Linked DNA regions of Homo sapiens: region 1 is linked to region 2. Evidence: fine-mapped expression QTL. A gene starts in region 2. The other region holds a variant in brackets. All regions are shown on one strand. Distances are between the middles of the regions.

Region 1 (5,369 bases), 82 kb after region 2:
GTAGGCAGATCACAAGGTCAGGAGATTGAGACCATCCTGGCTAACACGGTGAAACCCTGTCTCTACTAAAAATACAAAAAAAATTAGCCGAGTGTGGTGGCGGACGCCTGTAGTCCCAGCTACTGGGGAGGCTGAGGCAAGAGAATGGCGTGAACCCGGGAGGTGGAGCTTGCAGTGAGCCAGCCTGGGTGGCAGAGCGAGACTCCGTCTCAATAAAAAAAAAACCTTTAAGGTCAGGCACAGTGGCTCATGCCTATAATCCCAGCACTTTGGGAGGCCAAGGCGGGTGTATCACATGAGCTCAGGAGTTCAAGACCAGCCTGGCCAACACAGCAAAACCCTGTCTACTAAAAATACAAAAAAGTTAGTCAGGCATGGTGGTGCATGCCTGTAGTCTCAGCTACTTGGGAGGCTGAGGCAGGAAAATGGCTTGAACCCAGGAGGCAGAGGTTGGTTGCAGCGAGCCGAGATCACACCACTGCACTCTAGCCTGGCAAGAGAGGGAGACTGTCTCAAAAAAAACCTTTAAAATGGTATTAAAACATTTGATTATATATATATATGTGTGTGTGTGTGTGTGTGTATATATATATATATAAAACTATAAATATATAAATGTATTTTTATATATACAAATGTTCATTAGGTATTATTTTCCCATAGATTCATGAATGAATCTGGAAGGGAAAACTCCCCATCTTTTATTGTTGCCTATTTTTTTTTTCTTTTACTTTTTGTTTTCTTTGAGACAGGGTCTCACTCTGTTGCCCAGGCTGGTTGCAGCAGCGTGATCACAGCTCACCACAGCCTCAACTGCCTAGGCTCAAATGATCCTCCCACCTCAGCCTTCCGAGTAGCTGGAACTACAGGCATGCGCCACCATGCCGGGCTAATTTTTTTTATTTTTAGTAGAGACAAGGTATCCCTATGTTGCCCAGGCTGGTCTCGAACTCCTGAGCTCAGTCAATCCTCCTGCCTCCCCCTCCCAAAATGCATTGCGTATTCTTTCTTCCTAGAGATTGGGAACAATACATTCATTTACTTTCCTTTTTTTTTTTTTTTTGAGACGGAGTCTCACTCTCTTGCCCAGGCTGGAGTGCAGTGGCGCGATCTCGGCTCATTGCAAGCTCCGTCTCCCGGGTTCATGCCATTCTCCTGCCTCAGCCTCGGGAGTAGCTGGGACTACAGGTGCCCGCCACCATGCCTGGCTAATTTTTTGTATTTTTAGTAGAGATGGGGTTTCACCGTGTTAGCCAGGATGGTCTCGATCTCCTGACCTCATGATCCGCCCACCTTGGCCTCCCAAATTGCTGGGATTACAGGCGTGAGCCACCGCACCGGGCAATACATCTACTTTCTAATTTGTTACCTTATTACCAAGCCACCAAGCCTGCAGCTCTGTCTCCCTTCTGATAGAGCAACGTTTCTTTTTTTGTTTTGAGACGGAGTTTTGCTCTTGTTGCCCAGGCTGGAGTGCAATAGCGTGATCGCAGCTCACTGCAACCTCCACCTTCTGGGTTTAAGCGATTCTCCTGCCTCAGCCTCCCTAACATCTGGGATTACAGGCACGAGCCACCACGCCCACTAATTTTGTATTTTTAGTAGAGACAGGATTTCGCCATGTTGGCCAGGCTGGTTTCGAACTCCTGACCTCAGGTGATCCACCCGCCTCAGCCTCCCAAAGTGTTGGGATTACAGGCGTGAGCCACCATGTCCGGCCACTTGTAGATACTTTAAAAAACAAGTAGGCTGGCCACGGTGGCTCACGCTTATAATCTCAGCACTTCGGGAGGCCAAAGTGGGAGGATTGCTTAAGCCCAGGAGTTTGAGACCAGCCTGGGCAACTTAGTGAAACCCTGTCTCTACAAAAAATGTAAAAATGAACAGGTTTTGTGGCCTGCACCTGTAGTCCCAACTACTTGGGAGGATCGTTTGAGCACAGGAAGTTGAGGCTGCACTCTAGCCTGGGGCTGTACTCTAGCCTAGGCAACAGAGCAGAGCAAGGCCCTGTCTCAAAAACAAACAAACAAACAAACAAAAAACCCCCAAAAAACCCCAAAACCTAAAATATAACCTAAGGCTCTTGTCTTCTAGTCAAGACTTCTTTCTCTCCTCTACCACCTTGGCAGCTAGTGATTTCCTTTAATCCCATTACTGGTGGGGAAACTGAGGTCAGAATTCCAGGGTAGAGGCTCTTGGGCCCAGGCATTCGCCAGGATATGGAGCAAACCAGGGTGTCTGCTACAACGTGAGCTCCCCGAAGGCAGGGGCACTGTGTCCCAGCTCCTGGAACAGAGGCCAGCAAATTGTAGGTACTTAGGAAGTATATGCTGAGTGAATAAGTGAATGAAGGCTCACCATCCCTAGAAGAAGAAAGACCACTGCTGGAGGGAAGGGGAAAAAAGCTGTAAGTTTCAAACAGGGAAATGGATCTCATTTCCAGCCTTTGGCAGAGAGTGGTACAGCTGGGTGCTATGAGAACCACATCACTTTTAATCCACATGGGGCTCAGGCAGGAAAGGATCAAAACCCAATTTGAGAACTTGAGAGTCGCCCTGGGGCTCTGTGGTTTGGGAACAGTAGGGTCAATCTGAAGGCTGCAATGTGTCACTATTTCCATTACACACTTTCCAGGGTCCCCACTTGG[C/A]TGGTAAACTCAGAGCAGATTCTTCTGTCTTGAAAGATGGAAAGAGGCCCAGAGAGGTAAATTTTTTTTTTTTTTTGAGATGGAGTCTCACTGTGTCACCCAGTCTGGAGTGCAATGGTGGATCTCGGCTCACTGCAACCTCTGCCTCCTGGGTTCAAGCGATTCTCCTGCCTCAGACTCCTGAGTAGCTGGGATTACAGGCGCACACTGCCACGCTTGGCTAATTTTTTGTATTTTTAGTAGAGATGGGGTTTCACTGTTCTCCAGGCTGGTCTCGAACTCCTGAGCTCAGGCAATCCACCCGCCTCAGCTTCCCAAAGTGCTAGGATAACAGGCGCTCATGAGCCACTGAGCCCGGCCCAGAAAAAGTTTTGAGAATGCTGCTTGTTGGGAACAGGGGAGTCCTGCCTGCCCCAGACTGGCTGGATAGTAAGAACTGTTAAAGAAGTTATTGATTAGTCTTGCCAGGCGCGGTGCCTCATGCCTGTAATCCCAGCACTCTGGGAGGCGGAGGTTGGTGGATCACGAGGTCAGGAGTTCGAGACCAGTCTGTCCAATATAGTGAAACCCCATCTCTGCTAAAAATTGAAAAAAATTAGCTGGGTGTGGTGGTATGCACCTGTAATCCCAGCTACTTGGAAGGCTGAAGCAGGAGAATCACGTGAACCCAGGAGGCGGAGGTTGCAGTGAGCTGAGATCACGCCACTGCACTCCCGCCTGGGTGACAGTGTGAGACTCTATCTCAAAAAAAAAAAAAAAAAAAAAAGAGAGAGAAGTTATTGATTACTCCTGCTAATGGGAGAGAGGTATTAGTGGGAAACACCACCCTCCCTCTCCACTAATCCCAGCAGTTTCAGTTAACCTGTGGGACACATTATACTGCTTCTCCCTGCCCCTGCCCACAGGGATGTTGACTGAACCAGATTTTTTTGTTGTCAAAAAAGTTCTTTTGGCCAGGTGTGGTGGCTCATGCCTGTAATCCCAGCACTTTGGGAGGCCAAGCCGGGTGGATCACCTGAGATCAGGAGTTCAAGACCACACTGGCCAACATGGTGACCGTCTCTACCCAAAAAGACAAAAACTAGCTGGGTAGTCCCAGCTACTCGGGAGGCTGAGGCAGGAGAATTGCTTGAAGCCGGGAGGTGGAGGTTGCAGTGAGCACCACTGCACTCCAGCCTGGGCGACAGAGTGAGACTCTGTCTCAGAAAAAAAAAAAAATTAAATTAAAAAATATGTGAAGTCTTCTCAGAAAGATTATTGGATACCAAAGGTACTTTCTGGCTTCAGGCCTGTGGCCCTTGGGGCTGTCCTTGGACAAATGCTAGGAGGTCCTTGGAACTCAATGCCTGTTTATAAAAGGGTGGGGGGTGGGGGGTGGGGGTGTTACAGACAGCCTCCACCAGGAAGCGGCCTCAGCCTAGCCATATTATCTAGAAACTTCCACTGCCTGTTCCTGTTACTCCACTCCTTACCCTTCAAGTGCCCCAGACACAACTATATCCCCTAATGTTTTCTCCCCTCTGATTCTCCCAGCCTTTCAACCCCATTTCTTCCCATTCCAACCCCAACTAGGAGCATCCTCTGTCCCCTAGTCTATTCTCCATCATGCCCTCACTTACAGCTCCCATTAGCTCAAGGCAAAAGCTGCTTGTCCCTCCCCTCCCAGTCACTCGCTCCCTTGGGCTATAAATAGCATAGCTGTGCCTTAGATCGTGTTGAGAGCTTTAAGACTTAGTCCCCCTTCCCCCCATCCCTTCCCCTTTAACACAACAGGGAGAACAAGCCTAAAGCTTCCAGTTAGGGTGGGCAAGCCCAAGAAGGAGGGGGTCCGGGGGAAGGGAATGAGAAAAGCTGTGCTGAATTCGGAACCACACAGAATATGGTAACTTTGCCATCTGTTGTCAGGGACTCTCCGCTTTTCCCCCAGCCTGCTACCCATTCCCTGCCACTTGCTCCTGGAGGAAGAGGAGCAGCAGGAGTTAGCAGAATTCTAACAATTCTCTTTTAACCCTTGCGATCATCCTATGGGCAGGTGCTATCTTGATTTTACCAATGAAGCCAAAGACTCTAAGAGATTAAATGGCATAACCCAATATTTAGAGTGGTTGGTCTGTGGGCTAACTGATCCCACGTCTGACTTTTGCCTATGCTAAGTCTGTCCGCATCATTGATTTAGGCCCCTCTAAATCAGAATTTCTATTGATGTGACCTGATTTGGAAGAAAAAGAGGTCTCCTAAACAAATTACTAATGTAGCAATGCATAAATGGAAAACATTAAAGACTCGGCATGTTCACAAAAATGATGCTATCATAATTTTATCTTATCTGTTTACTAAAGCAGGACTCTACAAAAATCTGTTCCTTGAAGTTTTTTTTAGTTACTGTATGTTCTCAGAAGTTTTTGAAATACAAAGCAATTTTACTTCTTCTATTTCAAGATTTGCCCTCCACTTTACATTCTCTCAAGTTAGTCCTGAGTAGTGAGTTAGAAGTCTGGTCTTTTTTCTGTCACTTACTGTTGGGCAAAACGCTTAATGGAGCCCCAGTTTTTTGCCTGTGAAGTGCGGATAATAATAGCACCTACCTCATTGCTATCGTGAGAATTAATCTACACAAAGGAGGCCGGGCATGGTGGCTCACGCCTATATTCCCAGCACTTTGGGAGGCCGAGGTGGGTGGATCACTTTGAGGCCAGGAGTTCGACACCAGCCTAGCCAACAG
Region 2 (5,369 bases):
TACTCCAGCCTGGGTGACAGAGCGAGACTCTCCAAAAGAAAAAAAAAAAATAGTAAGTTCTAGCCGGGTGCGGTGGCTCACGCCTGTAATCTCAGCACTTTGGGAGGCCGAGGCGGGTGGATCACGAGGCCAGGAGATCGAGACCATGCTGGCTAACATGTGAAACCCCGTCGCTACTAAAAATACAAAAAAAAAAAAAAAATAGCTGGGCGTGGTGGCGAGCACCTGTAGTCCCAACTATTCAGGAGGCTGAGGCAGGAGAATGGCGTGAACCCGGGAGGCGGAGCTTGCAGTGAGCCGAGATCGTGCCACTGCACTCCAGCCTGGGCGACAGAGCCAGACTCTGTCTCAAAAAAAAAAAAAAAAAAAAAGTAAGTTCTAGCCAGATCTGCTGGGAGCCGGGGAACCCAGGAATATAAGTGGCTATGGGGGCCAGGGAGCCATATGACCGAGTCTCCACTGGAACTAGCCCAGGGTGCCACCAGGGAGAGTCACTCTTAGGGCTCATCAGGTCTCCCCAACAGGAAGTCTAGGGTCCCAGGGCCACCGATGTGGTAGGAACATGCCTCTGGTGAAGAGGCCTGGACCACAGATTGGGCTTGCTCTGTGGTCTTGAACATGTTGGAGGACCCAGACTCTCCCAGCCCCGGGCTCGCACTGTGAAATGACAAACCTCACCCAGCCTACTGGGGGGCACTCCTGATCGGGACTTGCTGATGTGGCCCTGGGACATGGGCAGGCTGGAGCAGGACAGCCACCTTCGTGTCTGGGGTGTGTGGTGAGGGTGCATGGGACCAGATATACCAGTCCCCTCTGGTCCCAAATGGAGGGCAGAGATGGAAGTAGGACTAGGGGTGGCTAAGAGGAGTGGGGCCATGGAGTATGGGATGTGCCTTTCACCAGCTGTGTGACTTTGAGAAGCTCACATAACCTCTCAGAGCCTCAGTTTCCCCATCTGTAAAATGGGGAGCACAATCTCTCCCTCTGGGCTCATGATGAGTTTCCAGGAATACCACCTAGTAGGCCCTCATTCCCAGGAGCCTCCTCATGCCTACATCTTGGAGGAGGTTCTCAAGATGTCTCCAGAGCGAAGGAAGAATTGGCTCAGCCTTACTGAGCATCTGGGCCTGGCATGGCAGGTGGTTGGGGGTGGGGGGAGTCACTTGGTTCCCTACATTGATGTCAGCGCCTCCTGGGAAATCGCCTTCTCACCTCTCCTGGGCCTAAAATAGAGCGGGGGGTGGGGGTGTCACAAGCTAGAGGCAGTTCCCTCATCCCCAGCAGAGGCCCTGGGTCCTTGCGGAAGCAGAGGACCCAGGAAGGGGTTTCCTGCCTCCAATCTTGTTCTTCAGCAACCTGTGGTCCCCTAGCATGGGTACCAAAAAGGTCAGGGTGGGGACTCAGCGGCCCACCCACCATGCCCTACCACACCCCACACCATCTCAGGTATCTGGCCTTCAGCACCCCTAGCAGAAGTCTGAGGTCCCAGCCCTGGTATTGGGACCCAACATCCCCAGGAGCTGGGTGGAGGGCACAGCTGGGAATGTAGGTTGGGAGGTCAAGTATTTTGCAGACAGGGCAGCCTAGTCTGACCAGAGAGGGAATGCTGGGGGGCTCCAGAGGTGTCTTCTGCTCCTAAGGATTGGGACTAGCAAGGGAGGGGGAGCCATGGGGCATGCTAGCAGCATATAAGTGACCTGGCTAGTTTATATTTTATCTAGGAGGAAGGACAGGACGCCTGTGAGAGACTCAGGAACCCAGACGGACATGCCAGCCCTTCCTGATGGTTGGAGTGACAGCGATCCCTGAAGCCCTCCTGGAGGCCGGGGCATCTTTGGCGGGGAGAAGGAGCCGATGGGAAGGGGTCTGTACCGCGGGCGTGAGAGGACTCCGCAGTGACACGACCCGTAGCGAAGGTGCAAGAAATCCCAGAGGCGTAGAGCCCGGCGTTCGCCAAGAGCCTTTGCCCACCCCAACCCCAGCTTCCACAGCCTGGGGTCAAGCGGGGCGCTCCAAGCTGGGGCTGGGGCAGCCTCTCTGGGGTACCACGACAGAGGGGCGAACGTGGGCGCCGCAGCCACGCCCCTGCCCCCGGGCCCCAGACAGGCAGTCGCCGGGTCGACCCCGGGGGTACCCCGTCCCCTGCTTCCCTCCCCTACAAATCTACGAGTCCTCGGAGATGCTCAGGCAGAGGTGGCCGAGGAGAGGCCGCGGGATAAGTACGCGGAGCGCCACCGCCCCGCACCTGCCGAGGAGACTTCGAGGTGCGAGGAGGGACCCCGGGGCGGCGCCTCTTTTGTCCTGCCGCGGCGGCGGCCCGGGCCCTGCGGGGCTGGGGGGGCCGGGGGGCGGCGGGAGAGCGGAGGGCGGGCCCTGGGCTCACGTGCTCGCTGCTCAGCTCTTAACCCGGCCCCGCCGCCCCGCCGGGATGGCCGCGGCCGGAGCGCGCTGAGCCCCGGCGCCGTCCCTGCCGCCCCCACCTCTCCGCGACCCCCGCCCGGCCCCGCGCCCCCGCCCCGGCTCCGCAGCTGGCGCCTCCCCACCCCCGTCCCTGCTCCCGCCCTCCCCGCGCCGCTGGCAGCCGCAGCCCCCGGACCGGGAGGAATGAGCGAGCCATGAGGCTGCTGCGGCGCTGGGCGTTCGCGGCTCTGCTGCTGTCGCTGCTCCCCACGCCCGGTGAGTGACCCCCGCCCGGCCCCGGCGCCCCCTCCCTGCCCCCGCCCCGGGATGTGCGGCGCTTGCTGCTGCAGCCACCTTTTCCTGCAGTGCTCGGGGTGACAGCCGGTCCGGAGCGCGGGAGGGTAGGGGAGCGGGAGAGGAGGGAAGGTGCGTCCACCCACCTGTCCCCAGCTGGCCGGGCCCACCGCGTCCCTGCCCCTGCCGCCGACCGGCCAGCTCTGCAGGTCTCTGCGGGTTTGGGCGGATGGGGGGGCAGTCGTGACGGTTGGGCGGGAGTGAAGCTCCTGGCCCCCTCCCCGCGGGCTCTTGCCTCTGCAGGGCAGCCAGATCCTCCCACCCGGATCGCCCTAGGGCTCCAGGGGCCACACCAGAGTGGGGGATGAGGCATGCCCACCCCATTCCCAAGTCTTCTGCCCCAGGGTGGGCAGCTGCCTGCAGCCATGGCCTTGTTTCCCCAGGTCTTGGGACCCAAGGTCCTGCTGGAGCTCTGCGATGGGGGGGCTTACCCCAGCTGGGAGGCCCAGGAGCCCCTGAGGTCACGGAACCCAGCCGTCTGGTTAGGGAGAGCTCCGGGGGAGAGGTCCGAAAGCAGCAGCTGGACACAAGGGTCCGCCAGGAGCCACCAGGGGGCCCGGTGAGTGGGGCTGGGTGGTGAGGCCAGGGGCTGAAGCAGGCCTCAGAGCCCCAGGAAGCCCACGGGGTAACCAGGGTTGGAGTCCCCCTCAGCAGCTGCCCCGCAGGGTCCCCTTCTGTACAGTGGGCTATCCGGTGGGTGCTGGAGCCCACTGGTGGGGAGCACCAGGCCTGCCCAGCCCCAGGGCCCCCTTCCATTATTGTAGGGTCCCCTGCCCTCAGTGTACAGGGACCACTAATGCCTAGGTCTCAGGTCTGCTTTGGGTCAGCCTTCCAATGGCCCCCTGCTCTGCTCTGGCCAAAGCTAGTTGTTCTGTTCAAAACAGGGCTTGGATGGGGCAAGTTGGGGGCAGGGAGAGGCAGCCCAGATTCCAGTCAGGGATTAGGGCTCTCAGGTTCTCACCACAGCCACCTTAGTGGGCTTTCTTGGAACAACTTAGTGCTTGCTCCTGCCTCAGTTTCCACACAGTGCCCAGATAGGCTTGTTGTTCTTCCTGTCCTGGCTGAAGGTGGGGCCTTGGAAAATAACTTGAGGCCCCAAGCCAGCTCTACCTGCCTGCCCACTGTCCCTTTCAGCTGCCAGGCCCCTCCTGCCTCCCAGAGGAAGGTTAGGCATGAAGGAGATTAATTGCAATTAATAATTAATTAATATCATGTGAATAATAATCACCCAGATGGAATATTCATTCAGCACACCCCAGCGCTCCAAGAGCTGGAGCTGAAAGTGAGCCAGGCCAACAGGGCAGCAGAGGGCAGGTTGGCTGGCAAAGGCCCGGCACAAACAGGAGGTATAGGGGGGAGACCCAGAAGAGGGGTACAACTGAGGCCTGGGAAGTTTTGGCAGCGGGGAGTGGTGGGAGGTAAATTGGGCTGGGCAGAGGGAGGAAGGAGGGAAACGGAGGCTAACATTACGGACATCTGTCAGACTGGCATCTGGCCCTGCCTAATGTACTTGGTTAAAAGCCCTTAAGGGAGGGGAGCAGAGGGGGATGCGGGGTGGTGCAGGGGTGGAGAATACTGATGAAATGGATGGAGCAGGAAGGGAGCATGCATAATAGATGGACCATCACTCAGGGCCGTGCAGAGGGGCAGGGGGAGGGGGCTAATGGTCCAAGGCCCGCAGTCACTGGGGGTGGGGTGGGGGGTGGAAGCTGCCTTCAGCAACTGCCCAGGCTCCCTGGGAGGTGTGCAGTCCTAGGGCCGGGGATGGGGTGTCCTGGCCGCTGAGTCTGGCTGTCTTGCCTGGTGTCACTCCCTACCTGTGAACTGTGCACCCCGTGGTTACACTGTGGGGGAACTGATGGTCTGCCCGACTGCTGGGACTCTGGCTTATGCTTTAAGGGATGTGCAGATTGAGTCATGGAGGGATGTCACCGCAGGGAAAGGGGACAGAGTTGAGGAAAAGCCTGGAGTCAGGTAGGGATGAAAAGTCAGGTATTCCAACTGGGCAGGTTGCTCCTTCAGCCTGACCCTTTCCGAACAGAGACAGAGGTGGCAAAGGGTAGGAGGTTCTGGGCTGTGGTGGTGTCTGCAGCTGCGTGGGAAGGTCAGGATGGGTGCAGTTGAACTGCTTGGGTTGGGGGTCTCTGTGTTGTTCTGCAGGTGAGTGAGTGCATGTGAGGTGTGTATGTGATCCACCGATTCCAGATACTTCTGAGGGGTGTCTGAGAGCCTGCGGGGAGGGAATGGAGTTCCATGGATCTGCCGGGCAGTGATTATCTCCAATTTTGGGGTCTCTCTGAGACTGAGACTTCCTAGGGCCCTCATGGCGACCTCCTCAAGGGACTTGTTTGGGGCCCTCTCTTATCTGTGCCTCAGTTTCCCCTGAGGTACCAAAGCTGTGGACTTCTATGGGCCACTCTGCCAAGCTTTGTATGCACTCTACATCACTTATTTCTCACAACTCTGTAAGGCTTGTAACTTTTGTGTGTTTATGTGTGTGTGTGATGGAGTTTTGCTCTTGTTGCCCAGGCTGGAGTGCAATGGCGTGATCTCTGCTCACCCTAACCTCCACCTCCCGGGTTCAAGCAATTCTACTGCCTCAGCCTCCCGAGTAG

Evidence for each region. PIP is the estimated chance that this variant, and not a neighbour inherited with it, causes the effect.
Region 1: its variant is the best candidate, but not a certain one, in a credible set for the expression of ADAM11 in aorta (GTEx, PIP 0.57).

The regions. Positions count from the first base shown.
Region 1 is chr17:44,838,528-44,843,896 of GRCh38, forward strand. No RefSeq gene overlaps it. Among named protein-coding and RNA genes, the nearest start is that of HIGD1B, 6.7 kb to the right of the region's middle. The variant C/A (reference allele first, on the strand shown) is at 2,648.
Region 2 is chr17:44,756,585-44,761,953 of GRCh38, forward strand. It overlaps ADAM11 (ADAM metallopeptidase domain 11), which reads left to right and starts at 2,404. Exons shown (of 27, transcript NM_002390.6): 1 at 2,404-2,676; 2 at 3,138-3,313. The coding sequence starts at 2,616. RefSeq lists an enhancer at 2,045-2,596.